Linked DNA regions of Homo sapiens: regions 2 and 3 are each reported to be linked to region 1. The links are microRNA targets in miRTarBase. Many come from high-throughput screens and were not tested one by one. Region 1 holds a microRNA gene; each other region holds the end of a gene's coding sequence.

Region 1 (7,200 bases):
CCTATAGCGCCCCTGCCTGTTCCAGAAGAATGGAAATACAGCTGCAGTGGGAGGTGGGAAATGCTTTTAGAAGTTTTGCAAGAAGGCAGATTATCAGAAAAAGAAAGGCTACGGAGCAGGGGACTCGGTGAGTGCGTGCTCTCTGACGGGCTCTGAATGAGAGAACTTCCTTTGCTCTCCCAGAACACATTTTCTCCTCTTCTTCCCCAGCCCCAGCACTTTCCTGGGCAGTGCTCTGCCCCTCTGCCCCTTCTGCTAACCTGAGCCGCTCTTCACCCCTTACCTGCCCTCATCCTCAGATTTTTCACCTGGGATGCACTTCCTGTCCTTAGGAGTATGGATTTTGGCAGATCCTAAGTCACTGTGAAGGTTGAACACCAGGCCTGATCCCTGCTGTGGGTGGCATGGACAGCCCCGCCTCCCAGGCCCATGTGGAAGAACATCAGGGAACATAAAGTCCAGGGCCCCTACCTGTGGGAAGGCAGGCCATCCATGGCATCTTCAAAGGCCTGATGAAGGAGGAGGGTGTCTTCACAGTTCAGGTGGATGGAGCATTGGTGATGGGGCAGCGGCTGGCCCCTGGGAGCATTGGGGGCCGCCAGGAAGCTGGGCAGCCTGTCTACGGCCACTGAGGGACCAAAGAGGAGGGTCAGGTCTTAGCCCCACAAGGTCCTCCCTCTACAGCCAGCACCCTGCTACCCTCAGTGGCGGACGGGAGTAGGAAAGTATGAGCAAGTGTTTCACCTTCTGACCAGGCTGCAGGGGGACACAGGCTGGAGGTCCGGGAATGGAGATGATGACTGAGTTCAGCTGCCCCCAGCCTGGAGGTTTCTCACTCAGATGGGTCAAAGGAGACAGTGCTGCAATGTGGTGTGCCTCTTACCATTGATCTTGGTGACAGGCGACCGGGTGTCCAGCTGAGAGATTCTCTCCAGGAACTCCTCAGGAAGCCACTCCTGGAAGGAGAAGGCTCCATGAAAGGCCTCAGATGTCCAAGGCCCCAAGGAAGCTGCCTTCTTTCTTTGCTCAGGAAGATCCCTCAGTCGCTCCCTCCGGAAATCCTCTTCATCCTTCAAAGCTCAGCCAAAACCACCTCCCCTGTGAAGCCTTCCTAGATCCCCTCCCACTCAGCTCTAACCACTTCCTCCTCCGCGCTTGGCCAGCAGTTCTGACTGTGAAATAGTCCGCACCTCTCCCTGCTTGCAAAGGGGTCAGTGGTTTGCAGGCCTCTTTTCACTACTGGTCTGTAAGCTCTTGGAAGCCTCGACGATCTCAGAATTGCCTTAACAAGTTTCTTTTTACTGATGTTTGTTGAATTTTAGTAATGGAATCACTCAGAAAAAGTAGTGCTTTGCCCCTAAGAATTGCCCCCAAGAATGGCTAGGAGCTTCATGTGCGTATACATGTTATCATATCTTTTGAGCACAGGGTAAGTCAATTGCAAAAACTGCCCCCAAAGCTCACCCCTCCCTGTTTGCACACCCACTTCCGTGTAACCTTGCAGTGCTCTCACACTCTGACTCTAGGCTTGGCCATGAGACTTGGTCTGGCCAATGCTAGCAAACAGGATGCAAAGAGATCAAACCATGTGATGCTTGCATGCATGCTTGAGCTTGCCTGCTTTTGCCCTTTGCCAGACCTTGAGAACATGCCTGGACTACCGTGCTGGAGGAGGACAGACACATGGAGCATAGCCGAGTCCCCCACCCGGTCATCCCAGCAGAAACGGTCCTGGACCAGCCACCACCAGCCAGCTCCCAGGCACATGAAGGAGTCCCGCCAAGATCAGCAGCCGGCAAGCTGACCCACAGCCAACTGCAGACGCATGAGCAAGCCTTAAGCAGCTGAAATCCACCAAGATCAACTGAAGTCTCCAGTTCTGGGTGCCAGTATTTCTTGTTGTATGCCCAGAAGTATTGTGGCTCTTTGTTAATTGATTAATTAATAATCATGGATAATATAACAGATCATTGACAAAGACAATGGAATTAGAGCGGTGAGAGGGGAGAAATCAGGAAAGTAGGAAAGTTGTGGAAATAACTCTAGATTGAAAGTCAGACCTGGGTTCTAGCTCTGGCTCTGCCAATGGCCGGAATCTTGGTCACTTCACCTCTCTGGCCCCTTCTCCCCACCTGTGAGGCTTCTTCCCCGTTTGCTACCTGCCCTTACCCCCCTGTTTCCCAAATGCAGAGACTTGGCTTTTGCATCTCACACCCTGATGCAATCCTGGCTCCCTCAATCCCCACGATTTCTAACCCCTGTTTTGGCAGACATCTAAGCTCCACCCTCCTGCCCACAGCCTCACCTGTGGCGTCAGCTTCAGGAAGGTGATCTGCGGTGATGTGTTGGACAGCACCATTTTGCTTCTCACCTCTGTGCCATCTTCCAGCACAACTCCTTGAACACAGCCTTCACTGTTCACCTGCACCTTCGCCACTGTCTAGAGCCCACCAGAACAAGGCCCCAGAAACCGCAGGAAGGGAAATCCATGTTAGATCTTCCGGGATTTCCATGGTCTGTGCTGCTCCTAGGCATTCACAACTTCTTCATCCCAAACCCATCCCACCAAGTTCTGCAGCTTCTCCATGAAGCCTCAGCTTCTCCATGAAACACTCAGTCTCAGTTCAGTGACCAGGGAATTCCAAGGGGGTGGTTAGCCACTAACAGACTGCATGACCTTAATCTCTTGATTCTGCAACCCATCCCCTCATGGCCCCTCTGTTCATTGGTAAAACAAGGGACCTTCCAAATCTGAGACTTTGTTCTGTCCTGGGATCCTTACTAATAATTGGGGTGGGGTAGAGGGGCCGTTCACCTTTTCAGTGAAGATGCTTGCTCCATGTGTGGTGGCTGAGCTTGCGATCGCATCAGAGAGGGCACCCATGCCCCCCTGGACGTAGCCCCAGGCCCCCTGCATTCCCTCCAGGCCCCCCATCACATGGTGCAGCAGCACATACCTGTGGACAGACCATCCGACTCAGATCCTGGAGGTGGGATCTCATCTCCCCAGAGTTCCAGGTGCAACTATTCCTTTCCATCTTGATCTTCAGCCCTTCCCTGCCACCATCCAGCCCTCTCCCAGCAGCCTTCAATGAGCTCAAGTTCTTGTAAGAGCCCTTTGCCTTCTCTACACCCTCTCCCTAACAAGTGTGTCTATGTGCATAGCTTATTACCACAAAGAAGGCAACGATGCCCAAACCTGCAGCTCCAGCCCTCTCCTGAGCTCCAGCTCCGGTGTCCAGCTACCCACAGATATCTCCCTTTGGACCCTTTCTTGGCAGCATCTTAAACCCACCACCTTTTCCCCATTCTCCAGCTGCTTCCCCTTCAATCTTTCCCATCCCAGTGAACGGCACCTTTCAACAGGAGGTTCTGTTTCCGACAGAAATCCAGGTGTCAGCCTTGACCGCTACCATCCTTCCCCATCTACATCCACAAAGCAACACCAACTCAGCCTCCAAAGGGCTTTCAAGGTCATCCCACCTCTCAGCCTCTCTTCTCTTCCTTATGCTGCTGCAGTAGTGCCCCTCATTGGACCCCCTCTCCCACACTTTCTCTCCTGCAGGTCTTGTCCACATATATCCTGGAGCCCTATCTTAAAGCCCAGCTCTGCTCCTGCCACTCACTTATCACCATTCCAAGCCTCCCCGGCTTGGCACTGCTCTTAGGATAATGGCCAGTCTTCTAGCAGGCACTCCAGCCTCATCCCTCATCCTGTCCCCCTATCCATATCCCATCCTCCTAACTAACAGAACCTCTCGATTTCCTGGGTGGATCACACGTTCTCTCAACCCCAGCATTTCCCCTGCTGTTCTGTCGGCCTGAAGCCCCTCCCTCCCTCATCTTATGTTTTGTTAACTCCTCTTTGTCCTTTGGGTCTCAGATCAAACACCTCTTCCATGTAGAGGCTTCTCTGACCCTAGACCAGGCTGTGTCCCGGCTGCTCCTCCTAGCATCACACTCACGCCACTTCATCATCATCACTCGCTCTGTGTCTCTCACCCATCAGGACATCTGCTCCGCTCACTACCGTATCCCCAGCACCTAGCACAGGCAAGCGCTCATCCATATTTGTTGGAAGAATTAATGATGGAACAGATTACTTAAAGATCACAAACGGAGCACTGGTTAAGCCTCCCAGGGATCCGAAGAGAAAAGGGCAGGAGGCCCCAGCTGGAAGATCCAGATTGGCTGGTAGATCACAGCTTGGCCAATGTGTGGCAACTGCTGCCAAGCCCCCATCTCCATCGCCCTGGGGGAATTTGGGGCCGGCTTAATATGTGTTGAAAAACCACTTCCGAGGGTGTGCTCATCCCTTGAGAGAAAAGCCACGTCGACGCCTTCTAGCTTCTAGCTTCTAGCTGTATCTTCTGGTGCACTGGAAACGGCCCAACCCTTGGCTGCATTCTCCATCCCAACACACACACACACACACACACACACACACACACACAGCCTTCCATTCCTGCTTCTGCGGGGGCTCATTAAGTCAGACCACACTGCAGGCTTTGCTGTGTCTGACTGCCACCTCTCGGATTGGGCTGTCAGCACAAACCCTCACTCATAAAGAAAAAGGCAGCTTCCTGTCCATCCTGAGGTGTCTGTGTGAGTGTGTACCAGAGCCCAGGGGAAGGAACAGTGAGAGAGAAGGGAGAATGGGCGTTTGCGGGAGTGGAGAGGTAGAAGAGGGAAGGGAAGAGGAGAGAAAAGAAGATATTAATTTTGAGCTATCAAGCGGGAGGTGGGAGAGAGGCTTTTCTTAGTGAAGCAGTAGGGCACAGTCACTAAAAAGGAAGATTTTGGGGAGTCAGACACCTCAAGCTGGAAATCAGCCTTGCCACTTACCAGCTGAGTGGCTTTGGGCAAGACACTCCCTTCTCTGAACCGCAGTTCTCAGATGTTGCTCTGAGGGTTAAGTGGATCGTGTGTGATGTGCCTGGCTCGGTTCCTGGCTCACTGGGTGAGCTCTGTTAAGTGGCAGCTGTTGTTGCTGCCACTGCCACTGTTGTCCTCACTCCTGTTGGGGAACATGCCCCACTCCTGTGTCCCACCTCACCCCCCTCACTCACCCACTCCCCGGAGTGTGGGGACTTGTCATGGCTCCAATCACTGCATCTGTGGCTAGAGTGGCTTTTAAAGGCTCAGACTCGAACCACTGATCCAGCACCTGGACAGCACAACAGCAGAGAGAAGGGCTTAGGAGCCTGGATGGGAGGAGGGCCCTCTCACTGCCTGGTCGGGCCTGAGGCTGGGGAACCACTCACCTTGGTAATGGGAGCTGTGAGGACCTCATAATATCGGGGAAGCTGGGCTCCCAGGATGCGGCCTACAAGAGAAGATCCACAAAACAGAAGTTGAAACAGGTGACAGGGAAACCCTCCGACCTGGCCTGGGGGATAAAAGCATGGAGGATGCTGAGACTTCCTGCCAGGAGGTGGTATAGCACAGCCAATGCAGGGACAGATCCAGCTTGAGTCCTGGCCACACCTCTCACTAGCTGCAGTGCCTGGGACACATTTTTAACATCTCTGAACCTGCTTCTTTACCTGTAAAATGGGAATCCTATTTTACACCCCAAGGGCTACGGTGAGGATTAAATGAGCTAGGTAAAGCATTTGCAAGTTCATGGGTACTTAATACATTTAAGCAGTTAGCATTATTTTTGGAAAATTTTAAACTTGTACCTTATTCCCTTATTTCGAACTCTGGAAGGCCCATATCCTGGGAGAAGGCTGGCATGGCTGATCCATTCCTATGACCCTGATTCAGACCATTTCAGAAAGAAACTAGGCTTTAAGGCCTTCAGGGTAGAAATCATGGTCTCTAGCCTTACAGCCCCTGGGCCTAGCTTAGTGTCTGACACATAGTAGTTGCTCAATAAATGTTTTTTGCCTGTTTTTCACACAGAGCTCCTTGGACTGGTTATCTGAGAGAGAGGCAGTGTCTACTTTTTGCATTTGTAATAGATTCCACTGGCTCCATACTCTTTGCAATGTATAAGTCTGCAGTGCCTCTCAACCCACCACAACTTGGTTAACCTGCCTGGCTCCTTGGCTCTGGGCTCATCCATGTGATTTGGTCAGCCAGTGGAATGTTTGCCGATGTGACACAAACCCAGAACTGAAACAGGCCTGTACATTGGGGCATGCCCTCTGTGCTTGTGCCACTGATGTGAAAAGTCCACACCCAGGTCAGCATGTGCTTCTACAAGGAGGACGAGAGGTACCTGGAGCAGAGCTGCCTCCACTGAGCTGCTGCAGACACAAACACATGCCTGAGACCAAACCAGATCAGCTGAGCCAGCTGGAATCAGCTGAACCACGAAGACATGTGGGAAACAAATGATTTTTTTTCTAGGATATAGAGGTTAAACTGGTCTGTATACCCTCAAGGAGGGTAGAAAATAATAGCACACTTAATGAGCCTTCCATTCGCATACTCATGGCAGACATTACTAATTGATCACAGAACTTCTCCTTGCTGAGCCCAAATCTAGCATTCTTCCTGTATGGGGGCAGCTCTTCAAATCTCTTGGCCCCTATATCTTATTCTAGCCACAGCCATGATGCTGAGCTCCAAGCAGGCTTTGATCAGCTTCACACAGGCAACTCCACAGCAACTCACTTCAGTCCTGAAAAGTGAGCCTCTCTACTTCTTCCCTAGGGCTTCTCTGGCACCAGGGCAGGGCACTCATGGGAACCTACTTGGCACCCACAGATGCACAGCCCAGAAGTGTGGGAGTCAATGCCCTGTGAGGCAACCCTTGGCCAATGGGAGATAGAACCCAATGGATAAATATTTCCCTTTCCATCTCCCGAGAAGGTTCCTCAAATGCTTTTCATAAGGCTTCCCAGAGGGCCCACACAGGTCCAGCATCTTGTCACCCACAGTGCTGGCTAGTGCGATCACACACTCTGGTATTGACTCTTTCTCTGTCCACTTTCACCCCAACTTTCTGCTATTTTTGTGTCTTGGGGTCACCCTTCCAAATGAACTACCCACGCATAAGCCTTGGTCTCAGGCTCTATTTTAAAGGCATATCAGCCTAAGATGCTCTCAACAAAGTGCTCCAGGCTGCCCCTAATTGATCGCAGCATGTTAACTGATCCCAGCTGGCAGGCTGCCATGGAGGTTCAGGCTTGTGTCTAGGCATCGAGACAATGGGCTCACCTCCTTGAAGGTCACTCATCATGCCCTGGT
Region 2 (7,200 bases), not on the chromosome of region 1:
GTCGAAGAAATATTGCAGAAATGCAGGTACTTGGAGGATATGAAAGAGGAGAAGATAATAATGAAGAATTAGAGGTATCTATAATTTTTCCCCAAGTTTACCAATGTTAGACTGTGGTTGTTTTATGTAGTTAGGAACCTTCATCAGTGTACAGAAATGTTACTGTTTTATTGCAAACTTTTCAGTACTCTAATGTCTATGATGGCAGAAACTGAAGTTCTGAGAATTTGAGAATTTTCTTGAAATGTGTCCCAAAGTTTTAAATGTTAATGGCAGTTTATTTGTTTAGCTAGGGTTTATCTTCATTTGCAGATTTTCAGATAAGAAACATATATGGCAAACACATTGTTAAGAAGTAAGAGCTGTTGATCTAGAGCTATTATAATTCATAGCATTGTAGCAGGCTATAAAAACCCAGTAAGATGACAGAGTTATATGATGTGAGTGAGGAAGTTGCCATAGTCAGCACCAGGGTAATGTGGCTGGTTTGGCTAACTGTCCTTCACCTTTACACTTCTGAAAGTGTATGCCTAGTCTGTGACACTGACCTCCCCAGTTGGAGGAAACTTCTTACGTCAAAGATATACTCTCTTGTTAGCCTTGACATATCATAAATTCTCCCCTCACCCATTCAAAGATTGTATTTTCTCAATTTAATAAAAGTTGAGGAAAATTTTTTAATAAATATAGTTAAACTCAAGTAGATAAATACGTGTCAAATGACAACTTTTTATAGTAGAAGCTGAAAAGGTATAGGCCATTATGTCTAATTGAAAGTCCTATAAAGCTCAATGTATTTCGATTTTGAGGTTTAGAATGAGAAAGACTTTCCTCCTGCAAACAGAGAAGTTGTTTTTCAGGTCTTAGTTTATTTTAAAATAGAAGTAGCCTTTTGGGGGAACAGAATGGCCTTACTGTTAACTCCAGTATTTAAAACCAACAAAAGCAGAGTTGTAATGTTGACTTGGGGCTGAGGGGATTAGATAACTCAACACATTCCTTCCCGCTTCTCAGAGCCCTGTGTCCCACCACGCAACACCGGGGCACTGTGCAGAACCCAGTTTGGTACTTGTTGAATTTGCTGTGAAGACCAATTAAGGTTGATGAATGAATTAGTTGACATGAGCCCTTTCCAACATAGTCCATTGAATAAATGAAAAGACACATTAAATTATAATAATAATAAATGCATATAAATAAATATAACACAATCCTCTTAAGATTTATTTTCAAATGTGACAATAACGTATCTCTTACAGGAAACTGAAAGCTGAAGACAACCAAGAGGCTTATGAGATCTAATGTGAAAATCATCACTCAAGATGCCTCCTGTCAGATGACACATGACGCCAGATAAAATGTTCAGTGCAATCAGAGTGTACAAATTGTCGTTTTTATTCCTCTTATTGGGATATCATTTTAAAAACTTTATTGGGTTTTTATTGTTGTTGTTTGATCCCTAACCCTACAAAGAGCCTTCCTATTCCCCTCGCTGTTGGAGCAAACCATTATACCTTACTTCCAGCAAGCAAAGTGCTTTGACTTCTTGCTTCAGTCATCAGCCAGCAAGAGGGAACAAAACTGTTCTTTTGCATTTTGCCGCTGAGATATGGCATTGCACTGCTTATATGCCAAGCTAATTTATAGCAAGATATTGATCAAATATAGAAAGTTGATATTCAACCTCACAAGGGCTCTCAAAGTATAATCTTTCTATAGCCAACTGCTAATGCAAATTAAAACATATTTCATTTTAACATGATTTCAAAATCAGTTTTTCATACTACCCTTTGCTGGAAGAAACTAAAAATATAGCAAATGCAGAACCACAAACAATTCGAATGGGGTAGAAACATTGTAAATATTTACTCTTTGCAAACCCTGGTGGTATTTTATTTTGGCTTCATTTCAATCATTGAAGTATATTCTTATTGGAAATGTACTTTTGGATAAGTAGGGCTAAGCCAGTTGGATCTCTGGTTGTCTAGTCATTGTCATAAGTAAACCTAGTAAAACCTTGTTCTATTTTTCAATCATCAAAAAGTAATTATAAATACGTATTACAAACAAGTGGATGTTTTTAATGACCAATTGAGTAAGAACATCCCTGTCTTAACTGGCCTAAATTTCTTCTGGTAGTGTCAGTTCAACTTTCAGAAGTGCCACTTAAGGAAGTTTGATTTTTGTTTTTGTAATGCACTGTTTTTAATCTCTCTCTCTTTTTTTTTTTTTTTTTGGTTTTAAAAGCACAATCACTAAACTTTATTTGTAAACCATTGTAACTATTAACCTTTTTTGTCTTATTGAAAAAAAAAATGTTGAGAAGCGTTTTTAACCTGTTTTGTTAATGCTCTATGTTTGTATTTGGAATATTTGAATAATGACAGATGGTGAAGTAACATGCATACTTTATTGTGGGCCATGAACCAAATGGTTCTTACTTTTCCTGGACTTAAAGAAAAAAAGAGGTTTAAGTTTGTTGTGGCCAATGTCGAAACCTACAAGATTTCCTTAAAATCTCTAATAGAGGCATTACTTGCTTTCAATTGACAAATGATGCCCTCTGACTAGTAGATTTCTATGATCCTTTTTTGTCATTTTATGAATATCATTGATTTTATAATTGGTGCTATTTGAAGAAAAAAATGTACATTTATTCATAGATAGATAAGTATCAGGTCTGACCCCAGTGGAAAACAAAGCCAAACAAAACTGAACCACAAAAAAAAAGGCTGGTGTTCACCAAAACCAAACTTGTTCATTTAGATAATTTGAAAAAGTTCCATAGAAAAGGCGTGCAGTACTAAGGGAACAATCCATGTGATTAATGTTTTCATTATGTTCATGTAAGAAGCCCCTTATTTTTAGCCATAATTTTGCATACTGAAAATCCAATAATCAGAAAAGTAATTTTGTCACATTATTTATTAAAAATGTTCTCAAATACATCTTTCTTTCTTGTGTTGATTTCTTTTTTCATTGTGTGCTGATCAAATTTATTCCATTTAATCACAAAGTCGTTCTGTCTTAACATTTCACCCCTGTATTATCAGATGAGTGAAAATTCTCAATTAGTTGTATGAATAACCAGGCTTTACTGTAAGCAAAATTTTACCTAAGTCCTCTGAAATTAAAAATGTAAGATCAGTCAAGACCTAGAAGTGAATAATTGGATCAGAGACTAAGTCTTCTTTAATATTAAGGGTATATTATTTTTGTTTATGTATGTGTATCTGAGTTTCAGTTAATCTATTTCATCTATTTCTAAAATAATTGGGATTCAACTAGATAAATGTGATTTGTAAAGTTTGAGCCACCTATGTTCTGTCAGCAAGAAAATTAATTATATAACTCTGAAATGCTTATCAGTAACTATCTGCTTTCTTGTTACGAATTCACGTAAAATTTTAACAATACCTATCATATACCAGGTTATACATTATTAAAGTTAGTTAGTGTATCCAGGTATTCAACTTTAGATGAACAATATGGGCACCATGTCTTGGAAGTTCCAAGAGCAACAGAATCTGATGTAGGTTTTTTCCCTTTCACATATATATTGCTCTTCTACCTAAATTTTGTGTTTATCAGAATTTGAAAATATGAGGGAAAACAGTGAAAAAAAGGGGTTTAATCTGAAATTTAATTTTATAAAAATGAAGTAATCACCAGCATCTACTTAAAGATGAACAGGTCCACAGGTCAAGAAGTCAATTTCTAAAAGCTACTTTAAGGAAAAATTAGAGGGACATGTGTAGTGACGTAATTTCTCTCTTACCCCTGGTGAGTTGACTATAAATATAAGTTAGTCTCTCTCTTTATTTATAATATGTGATAATACATACCGATTCTGTATATCAGAGGACCTGGGTTTGAGTCGCAGTTTTGTCACAGCTGTGTTTCCTCGGAGATGTTACTTAACCTCTAAGTCTCAGGTACTTCACCTGTAAATTCAATAATACCTACCTCATGGAGCCGTTGTCATGATTCAGTGAGTTAATGTGTATGATATGGACTCTGTAAACTCCATCAATGATACAAGATATTGTTATATTTATGGACTGAAATTCATTACACATGCAATCCCTGCTTTTCATACCTAGTTTGTTTCTGAGTATTTGCACGAAAGTCAAAGAATAAGTGTGGTACCAGGATGAGGGTGGTTTCATTTCCGGTGAGTAAAATTCACTGTGAAATTCCTAATTGTGGAATAAATAATTGGTGTTTTTGTTTGTTTTGTTGCTCTTGAATTCGAGGGCCACACAGCGGGTGGTGTTATGGTGTCTGCAGCACACATTTCACAATTCGTGGGTACAGACAGGAGTTCTCAACAATTAAACTCGTTGTTTATTTTGGGCTGCTATTCTGCCTAGTGGCAGAAGATATAATCTTAATTCCAGGTGAAATCGACGATACCTGGCTTTTTTGATTATTTCATATATAGTCTGGATTTCTTCTTTGCACACAGTGACATCTGAATTTCAGAGCTGTCCCCATGTGTAGAATGTGTGGGTGGTCAGGAAGCAGGCGGCTTTGGGGATTGCTGTTGGCCAAGTTTCATTAAATGATCTTCATTTTTGTCAGAACTTTACTCTGTATCCTCTTCTCCCAACCTTAATGCCTCTTATTATCCATTGATCCTCTCCTGATACTTCTAAGTCCTTCAATGTAGGGTGGGTGTAAAGAGTAAGGAAGGAGAGTTCCATATGCTCTTCTGTGCCATGCTGGGGCTCTAAGGACTTGAGACTTCCTTGGGGTCTCACAAGATACTACAATGGCCCCTAAACTGCTTGCTGCATTTGGACTGTGTGTTGGTTGAGGGAAGGGGTGAGAGCAACTTCTGCAGTTTTGAAGAAAAGAGCCTAATAATTTGCATTTTGGAGGCAATCCTATTTATGTTAAAAATAGTTTGGTAGCTACCACCCTAACAACTCAAAGATAAGTTTCATCGTAGTACAGCTGAAACTGAAATGAATCTTATAGGCATTAGTGTCTCACAATCACTTTCACCTTTTCATTGCTCGCTGTTTAAAAACATAAGCCTCAAAGAAACAGAGCATGCATCAAACTTTTGTTTACCTCGTTAATACAGTAAACAGCAGAAAGACAAAGAGCAGTCAAATGGCAGCTGTGAAAGAAACTTAACTATGATGGCTGAGTTAGTAAACTTTCTTTTTTTTCTTTTTCTTTTTTTTTTTTCTTTAAGACAGTCTCACTCTGTCACCCAGGCTGGAGTGCAATGGCATGATCTTGGTTCACTGCAACCCCCCACCTCCCGGGTTCAAGCAATTCTCCCTGTCTCAGCCTTCTGAGCCGCTGGGATTATAGGTGCCCGCCACCATGCCCGGCTAATTTTTGTATTTTTAGTAGATACGGGGTTTCACCATGTTGGCCTGGCTAGTCTTGAACTCCTGACCTCAGGCAATCCACCCACATCAGCCTCCCAAAGTGCTGAGATGATTACAAGCGTGAGCCACCGCACCCAGCCGAGTTAGTAAACTTTCTACAGGGCAATACAAACATGATACTAATTTTTACTGGGCTAGAGAGTCATGACATCTATCTTTTTCTTTAGGTTAAATAACCATTAACCTTCAAGACTACAGGAAGTCTGAAGTCGGCCACCTTTATCATTTGGAAATTATCTGTCGAAAATATACCTTGGTAATTTACATTCACTCAGGAGAATCAGATAAAGGTTCGACAGTGACTTACTCTTGTTCATGTTTCCCCAGAAGCAGAGCCTGCGACAAAGACTTGGATGCAAACAGTTTATTTGGGATAGAATCCCAGGAAGTGGGAGTGTGAGGGGAATAAAATTCAATATAGATCCTTCAAAGTAGGTGAAGGTGCCTCTACCAGGTACTCTACCGGCTCTTCCCAGGAGCACACAGAATGCCTAACAGAACTTTTCACTGAAGGACAGTAGCCCAAAATTATTCCCCATTAGCTGAAGGTTTCAGGCTGCAGGCGGGGCAGGGGATTTCACTTCCCGGTACTAGTGAGCAGACCAAGTGTGAATGGAAGACCCTAAGGCAGAAAGAAGACATGCACATGGCAGGTAGTTGAGTTGGGAAGGTGCCAAAATGAGGTGAGTCTGGGATCAAAGGGAACTTTTGGCCCTAGCAAAACCTCAAAGGCATCTATTGCTGGCAGGATTATTGGAAAATGTTTTAGTATGGTAATAAAAATCAAGCAATCATTAATTTACCATTTTTCAGATTTAAGATAAATTTTCCTTCATAATGTACACATATGAAGTTAGTTATAGGTATTCAAATTACTTTCACATTGGTGGAGTTTTTACCAGTTATCAATTTCTGGTACTATAGGTGTTGAATTTAATTGACATTTAACATATTTTGAAAATTTTTTTACAGTATTAGCATTGAAACAAAACGAGCAAAAAGCATGGAGAAACACCATTGAGATGTGACTTGGATCCTTAGAGGAATAACCAGTTACGCATTTTCTGGCAAAGCAACAAGCTTTACAGTACCACAGAAAGTAAAATATCCACAGTAATTCAAGTTGTGCCTTCCAACACACACATATATGCACACACACATATACAATGTTATTGAAGGCCAGTAAAATTATGAAATTCCTCAAAATAAAGTGAAAAAAAGTTTCAAGCAAAGTTGAGCATGGTGTAACCAATTTATGTGTTTTGCAAAACTATCGTTGAGACATTATATCATGACAAAAATTGGTAGCATTTCACAGTGACACACAAAGTTTTTAAATTCAATGAAAATTACATTAAAAAGTAACATGTATACAATCCCATTGCCTTATATTGGACTCATTATATTTACATAGATTGGATACTGTTAGGGACTGAATGTTTATGTCCTCCCTGAATTCATATGTTAAAATTCTAACCCCCAATGTGATGGTTTTAGGATGTGGGGCGTTTGGGAGGTAACTAGGTTTTGATGGTGGAGGCTTCATGAATAGGATTAGTGCTCTTATAAAAAACAACAACAACAACAAACAAACAAACAAACAAAAGCAACCCTAGAGAGCTCTTTCTTCTTCCTGCAATGAAACAAGGAAATGTCAGCAGTCTGCAACCCAGAAGAGGGCTATCACCAGAAGTCAGCTATGCTAGCCCTGTGATCTTGGACTTCCAGCTTCCAAAACTGTGAGAAATACATTTCTCTTGTTTACAAGCCACCCTGTCTATGGGACTTCGTT
Region 3 (7,200 bases), not on the chromosome of region 1:
AGCCGGGCGTGGTGGCACATGCCTGTAATCCCAGCTACTTAGGAGGCTGAGGCAGGAGAATTGCTTGAATTTGGGAGGGGGAGGTTGCAGTGAGCCGAGATCACACCACTGCATTCCAGCTTGGGCGACAGAGGGAGACTCGGTCTCAAAAATAAATAAATAAATAAATAAATAAATAAATAAATAAATAAATAAAAATAAAAAGTATCATTGTGCACATAGATGTCTCAGCTGCAAATCTCTTGGACTTACAAACCTGGCATCTTCCATTATGGATGTCAACCATTTCAGTTAAGTGCTTTCATCATTCAATAGATTGTCTAGGAGGATTTAAAGGGTATAGGAATGCTTCATATGTACAATTAATTCTCAGTGATGCCTAAACTTTACTATGAACTTCCATTTCTTTGTGCTAAGTATCACTCTCTCCAGAGTTGTATTTGACAGTGCCAGTGGTCCTCCACAGGCCAATATATTAATTCATTTGCACATTAGCATAAATTTACTTGGACTGCATTTTCCTCCAGGGCAGAAAAAGTTTTTGAAAAAAATGGGCAATTGAGGTGAGGGTTCCTTTGACTAACTGCACGTCGCCCAGGGCTGGCCTAAAGTTAAACGACCTTCATGGATTTAAATGACTCAGATAAAGAGAAAGTAATTAGGGTAACAGAGGGCTCATCTGAAGGCAAAAGTTATTTGCTACTCACAGTGGTAAAGGGGTACAGTAGCAAATATGGTCACGCTCTGAAAACAAGCACAAGGCCCTAGCCATGCCAGGCTGTGCAAAGACAGCTAGAACTGACGGTGGGACCAGGCTCCACAAAGATGGTCAGAGGTTTTTTTTTTTTTTTTTTTTTTTTTTGAGACGGAGTCTCACTCTGTCGCCCAGGCTGGAGTGCAGTGGCGCGATCTCGGCTCACTGCAAGCTCCGCCTCCCGGGTTCATGCCATTCTCCTGCCTCAGCCTCCCGAGTAACTGGGACTACAGGCGCGCCCGCCACCAGGCTGGCTAATTTTTTGTATTTTTAGTAGAGATGGGGTTTCACCGTGTTAGCCAGGATGGTCTTGATCTCCTGACCTCGTGATCCGCCCGTCTTGGCCTCCCAAAGTGCTGGGATTACAGGCATGAGCCACCGCGCCCGGCCATGGTCAGAGTTTTAAGCCAACAGATTATAATCCTGGCATAGGGAATGAGGGACAAATACTCAAAAGACGGTCGCCTAGCCCCAAACAAGGATTATAGAGCCCCAAATAAAAAGGTTTAGAGGGAATATCCATGTGTTTATGTGTAACTGACCCTCGTGCCAGGGAAAAACTGATCATGGCACATATCCAGAAGAGGTGGAAAGCCCCATGACATGCATCTCCACACTGAGTTCCAATCACTACCCGCAGGCCTGGGTTTCTTGTCCATGTTAAGGCTAAGTATACATCTCATCTGCCTCTTCCAGCTTCATTACCTTCCCTTCCCCCATCTTTTAAAAACTCACCCCTACCCAATCCCATCCATCATCCCCAACTCTCCTCCACTGAGAGTTACAAGAACTTTGTAATTTGGTCAGAAGCAGTAAAAAGTGCTTGTTAGTTGTTGCCTCTTTTTCAAAACCGATGTATCTAAATCCTTCAGTCTTTTACTAGAAAGGGCCCAGGGACTGTCTTTTGCCCCTACCTTTTGTAAGTGTGGAGTGCTGGCTCTCAGAAGCAGGGGCCATCTCTGCAGCGTGTCCGGTTCATAGCCTGGGGCTTGTTGGCTGCCTCCCGCCCTTGTTCTTTGATGATTTTGCCCTCCCCTCATCTCTGTGGGAATCCCAGCCCTGGGGGAAGGGGCAGAAGAGGAGGCAGGGCACCTTCAGCAAACACATAGTGAATATGAGTCACCACCATCTAATGACCTTTCCATTTGTTATCAGTTTCCACTACCTCAGCTAGTCTCAGGATGGGAAACAGCCCTCCACAGGTCAGAGTCATTACGTCACTCCTCAGCAGCCTCTCTAGCTCCCCTGTTGGTTTCAGGATAGGCAAGCAGGATAGGAGGGCGGGATCGGGGGTCTTCTGCACACTGGCTTCCAGTCCTCTTTTCTCCTCCTCTCATCTCCTCCCAGGACCTCATTCCAACGCATACTGTTCTTCTCTCACTCAGCCCAAACATCACCACCCTTGGAAGCCTTTTTAGAGGTCTTTGTTGATGTGGAGCTAGTCCCTCTTTCCTCTGGGCTCTCACAGCACTCTGTGTTCACCTGAGTTATAGCACTTGCCACATGATACTACGATGATTAGTTTACATATCTGTCATTCCCATCCTCCTTGCTCAGACTGTGACATGGGCTGGTGTAAGTCTTATTCATTTGGGTGTCATGGGAGCCTGACTCTCAGCAGCTTGCTCTCAGGAGGTGCTCAGAAAATGTTAACTGAGTGAAGGAAGGGAAAGGGGAAGAGAAATGGTCTTTTATTCATTTATTGAGCAAAACACAAGTAGGATGATACAATGAGGCACTGACGCAGTACAGAAAGCAATGGTGCTTTTAATGAAACTTCTTTCAAATCTGTGAACATGCTAGCTGTGAAGTACATGCTTTTATTCTTTCCATAGGACATATTTCCAAATAATGATCACAGTATTATGGTTAATAAGATGCTGGACAGATGCGTAGCCAAAGAATATTACATAACAACAAAATCTCATCAATGATATATCAAATGCAAATTTACTAAGACATCAAGAGAATATCTGTTTGTAGTTACATGGCTAAAAACAAGACATTATTACAGTAACCAAGTCCATAAAACTAGAAAAAAAGCACTGTATAACAAAAAGGCCTTTTAGAAGCTATTAAATGAACAAACATTATAGATAAACCAATTTTATATCTGAAGCAGCTTATAGCACCAACACGTTGGCAGGACCAGCAGAGGGGTGGGGTCTTTGGACCAAGGCATCTGGGAACAGGAAGGGCTCTCAGCCATCATCTACTGCAGCCACTTGTTTTACAAATGGAGAAATAGAGGCCCAGAGAGATGAAGCGCCTTGTCCAAGGTCACACAGCACAGGACAGACTGGGAAATGATCCAGGGCTATGATCCAGGCCACTGACTTCAGGTAAGTGCTCTATTTTAACATACAGATATAAGATTCTATTTGATTTGATGTATTTTTTCCCCATTAACAGGTCTACCATAAAAGAAAGCAATAAAACCCATAATGTACTCTGGTATTGTATTTATTTCACTGAGAAATGACTGGCATGTACTACGATCATTTTGGGGGCCTATATAGATCTTACATCAAAATTCAGAGGAATTAGTCAGATAACACTATTTTAGTTATAAATTGAGAAGGTGGCATTTGAAGAGAATATTTGGCACATCCTCCACTACGTAAGCTACCCTATGCCTCAAAATTACTAAATCATTGGTATAAAGTTTTGGTTTTTTTCCTGATAGTTTAAAGATTAGTAAAGTACAAAAACAGTCTAAATAGAGAAAAAGCAAGTCAGGTCTTTCCTTTAAAAGTTAAGTATGGCACTTTTCATTTTAATAAGGTAAATGATTTTAAAAACCTGACATTTTTTAGAAGAAAAAAAAAAACTAGCTATGAGCCATCACTTGTGAACCATCTGGTATATAAAATATTTCCCTTATTTAAAAAATGTTTCTGTAAAATACTTCGGAGTCATGAAATCATGCCGTGGTCCTGAGGCCTCAACTGGACAGATTTATGATGAACTAATGAAGATATAAGAATGAAAAAAAGAAAGAGATCACTGTTAACAGAAGCAGCATTAAGGACAAAGTATACTGAATATATTGAAACAGCTTCATGGAAATGAAGCCAAGAAGTTGCATGTATATACGTGAGAAAGATTATCATTACAGTGGTAGTTGGAAAAAGTAACAAACACTGGGTATTTGTCTATCATTAACATAAACCAACTGTTGCAGACAGTTAAACTGTGGCTTTGTAAGGAGAATAAAGCCTGATAAAAAAAGTGACTTCTGCATATCATATATATGTATACATATATTTTCTCACATAGACGTCTAGTTATAAGTAAATCAACATTTAGCTACAACTTTTCCTCTCTTGGGTCCAGCATCAAAAGATTTGATATTCATGAACATGCCCTACACCTGGTTAGGAAGTTATGTATTTATACTCATAGCCTTTATTGTATCTGACCAGGGTGAATAAAATGAAATCTCCTGGGACCTCAAGTCCATTTCTTACCACTATAAGCATATTAACAGATATATATCAAAACATACTTGTTTACTGTTAGGTAAAAGAGCATGTTTCAGTACTAAATAATAAACTATGCCTGCTACCAATAACATGCACATAATGGTATAATAAAAGTAATTTTTCATGAAAATATTTTGAAAGAAGCTACATTATAAATATTTAAAGAAACGTTAAAAATCAGAGTGAAAATCAGATTAGTGTTCTGAAACTGAGTAGAAAAATAGACTTATAAAAAAAAGAATGTCTCATTAAGTGAAGCATTAAATGTAAAGTTGTCTTTTTAGTGTAAATTTCAAATCTCACCCTTTGAGAGGTAAAATCTTCCTCTCTCCTAAACAGGTACCTATAATTGATTTGGGAACTGGGCATATCGCAGAACGAAAAAGCAGATGACACAAGGCTAAGGGCAGTGCCGTGATTTTCACATGGCCTTAGAAAAGCGAGGGGCATTCATAAGGCTGAGTAGATAGCAACTTGGAGAAATACTGAATAAATGTGAGCAGTTTGAAAACAGTAATGCATTTGTCCACCCTAAATGAGCTAATACTCAAAGCCCAGACATTAGATTTTAAAAGGGGTTTGCTTTCCAGGACAGATTGTACAAAATTTGGGAAAATCGTTGTAAATAATTACTTCCTGGGGTTGATTCCTTTTTGAGGGGAAGTTTTTAACCTTTCCTTAGTAGTTACTTTTAATGAACTGAAGAAGAATTAAAGCATCAAAGGCCTAGTGTATGATTTGACTCCGAAGTGACCCTCTCTTCTACTTTGATAAAGTCAAGATACCTTATTGGCCATAGGAGATTCCTCCTTTTGGGGCTACCCCCATACCTGGAAATTCCAAGAGTGTGAGGGCTATATTTGGGCCCAGAGGAAAATCAAGGAACCCCATATCCAGCTGCTAAAGCCCTTGGGCCCAAGGAGTGTACCACTGAATCCAAGGCTCTCTTGGGTAGCCTATGTGCCTCTTGGATGGTATGTGAACAAGGTAGGGATGAAACTGCAGATGTCTGAAAAGAGCTTAAGCATCCTGACAGCTTGCATTTTTTTTTTAATTTTTTTTTTCCTCACCGTATTCCACATACCTGTGGCTGGGGAAGGTAATGTTACCTCTGCAAACAGATGCTCTGGTAAGAGAAGAAAGACACAGGGAAGGCAGAGAGAGCAAGACAGAGGGCTCAATCACAAAGCTGGGACAAGGAGAGCAGCTGTTTTTCACACATTCCTGCTCCTCTCTCAGCTGGGCTCATGTTCACTCCGTTTCATTCCAATCATCAGGGTGGAGATTTCAGAGGTGCCTATCCCTAATCCAGTAGAGAACATGAGCCCTGGGAGCACAGCTGCCTGGAGTCCTCCCAAGGGTCTCCTCCCCTTTTCCAGACTCAGCATCATTGAAGCCCTAACGGGTCCTTGTAAATTAATGTTTCATATTATCGAAGGACTGTCAGTTTAGTTTGGTACAGTTTATTGTAGCCTAAGAGGTCCAGCAAGATTTCAAGAGAGGAGAGATGATTGCATTACTTGATTACAATGAATACAATCTTTAGGATACTCTTTACTTTTTGTACAATAACGATATGAAAGGAATTTTTTATTCTACCTATACACAGCTCAAAATAAAGGTATAACTTCTGGAACTGAGAAACTGATGGTATGGAGAGAGGGACGTTTTCATAAGAAAATAGCTTTGATAAGTGTATACACAAAGGCATATATATATACACACAAACACCCCTCTCTCTTATATACTATACAGGCTGGCACACGCCTTATAAAGAATATAATATCAAGGCTTTAGGATTTCAATGAATTTTGGAATTTTAATTTGACAGGTGCTTAGGCCATTTAGGTCCTGACATATCGGAATCCCTTGTATTTCTAAAGTATATAATTATGTTTTTAAAAAGGCCCAGATCAACTTTCCTTAAACAGTAACCCAACATAAAGCCATAGTTACCAAGTGGAAAATAAGATTGTTATTCTGTATTAAATCAGTAAAGGGTATTTTAAGAGAAAGGACAACTTGGAAAATAGAGACTTCAGAGTCCATTATTCCAAGCTGAGAACATTTTAGTTATTAGCAGTGGTTACCAAATAAGCTGAAGGTAAATCTCTTCAAGGAGCTGCTCATAATTTGCGTTGTTGGGAAGAGGCGAGGAGCTGTTTCTCTATTCCACTATAAGATGATGCAAGTTTTTTTATCCTTGAAAGGGTTTTCTGAAGTTGGTATTCCTATCAGCAAAGGGTCACTCCTGGCATGTTCCTCACAGTAGGACATGAGGTCCGCTGATGCCTTCGAAACCTGACATGGAGATAAATCAAACAAACAAGAAAGAAAATATTTTACTTGCACACTTTCAGAGCGTATTTGAATGCTAGGCTATTGAATGGAAGACTGATTTGAACAAGATAATCAGAGTCTCAAAGCATCACTCTCAGATTCTTGTCAGGTATAAAAAGGAAATGGTACCTTTAAAATGGTGCAATTTGGCAGGTAAGGTCTTTCTTAACCAAGCAACTTAACAATGGTCAGACAAACTGGCACCATGTATCCCTTCATGGGAGTGCTGAGGACACACCGCCAGCTAATGAGCTAGCATTCCTGTCCAACATTGAACTGGAGTCCAATCAGCGAACGATCACACCCGAAGTGAGGGTGATTCTGCAAAATAAGTGGCCTGGATTCTTCAAAAATGGACTGTGTGTGAGGTATTCTTATTAGATAATCCTGAACTGCAAATAACTTTCAAGGGTTTAAAGAAGACATTATATATGTTTTGTGTGTATGTGTGTACAGACAGAAGGAGGGAGAGAGACAGTGCAAGCAAGTACATGTGGTCAAATGTTAAAAACTGGTGAATCCTGGTAAACGGTTTATAAATGTTTGTTGTTACAACTCTTCAGCAGGTTTGAAATGTCTCAAAATAAAAAGTTAGGGGCCAGGTGAGAAAAAGCATATGTG

What was found. Region 1 holds the annotated microRNA hsa-miR-1287-5p (UGCUGGAUCAGUGGUUCGAGUC, at 5,145-5,166, opposite strand). A microRNA usually pairs through its seed, bases 2 to 8, with sites in the 3' UTR of a target mRNA and lowers its output. Matches are read on the target gene's strand: a 7mer-m8 pairs with bases 2 to 8, a 7mer-A1 pairs with bases 2 to 7 and ends in A, and an 8mer does both.
Region 2: miRTarBase lists ROBO1 as a target of hsa-miR-1287-5p. Seed matches in the 3' UTR shown: 7mer-A1 at 1,521-1,527.
Region 3: miRTarBase lists GNG12 as a target of hsa-miR-1287-5p. Seed matches in the 3' UTR shown: 7mer-A1 at 2,633-2,639.

What each region holds. Positions count from the first base shown.
Region 1 is chr10:98,390,127-98,397,326 of GRCh38, forward strand. It overlaps MIR1287 (microRNA 1287), which reads right to left and starts at 5,181; the gene lies at 5,092-5,181. PYROXD2 (pyridine nucleotide-disulphide oxidoreductase domain 2) reads right to left here. Exons shown (of 16, transcript NM_032709.3): 7 at 5,265-5,326; 8 at 5,070-5,167; 9 at 2,816-2,957; 10 at 2,306-2,440; 11 at 884-956; 12 at 472-628. RefSeq lists an enhancer at 1,382-1,431.
Region 2 is chr3:78,592,987-78,600,186 of GRCh38, reverse strand. It overlaps ROBO1 (roundabout guidance receptor 1), which reads left to right. Exons shown (of 31, transcript NM_002941.4): 30 at 1-74; 31 at 1,260-2,948. The coding sequence ends at 1,274. Among named protein-coding and RNA genes, the nearest start is that of LINC02077, 550 kb to the right of the region's middle.
Region 3 is chr1:67,699,037-67,706,236 of GRCh38, forward strand. It overlaps GNG12 (G protein subunit gamma 12), which reads right to left. Exons shown (of 4, transcript NM_018841.6): 4 at 2,439-6,540. The coding sequence ends at 6,415. Among named protein-coding and RNA genes, the nearest start is that of GADD45A, 17 kb to the left of the region's middle.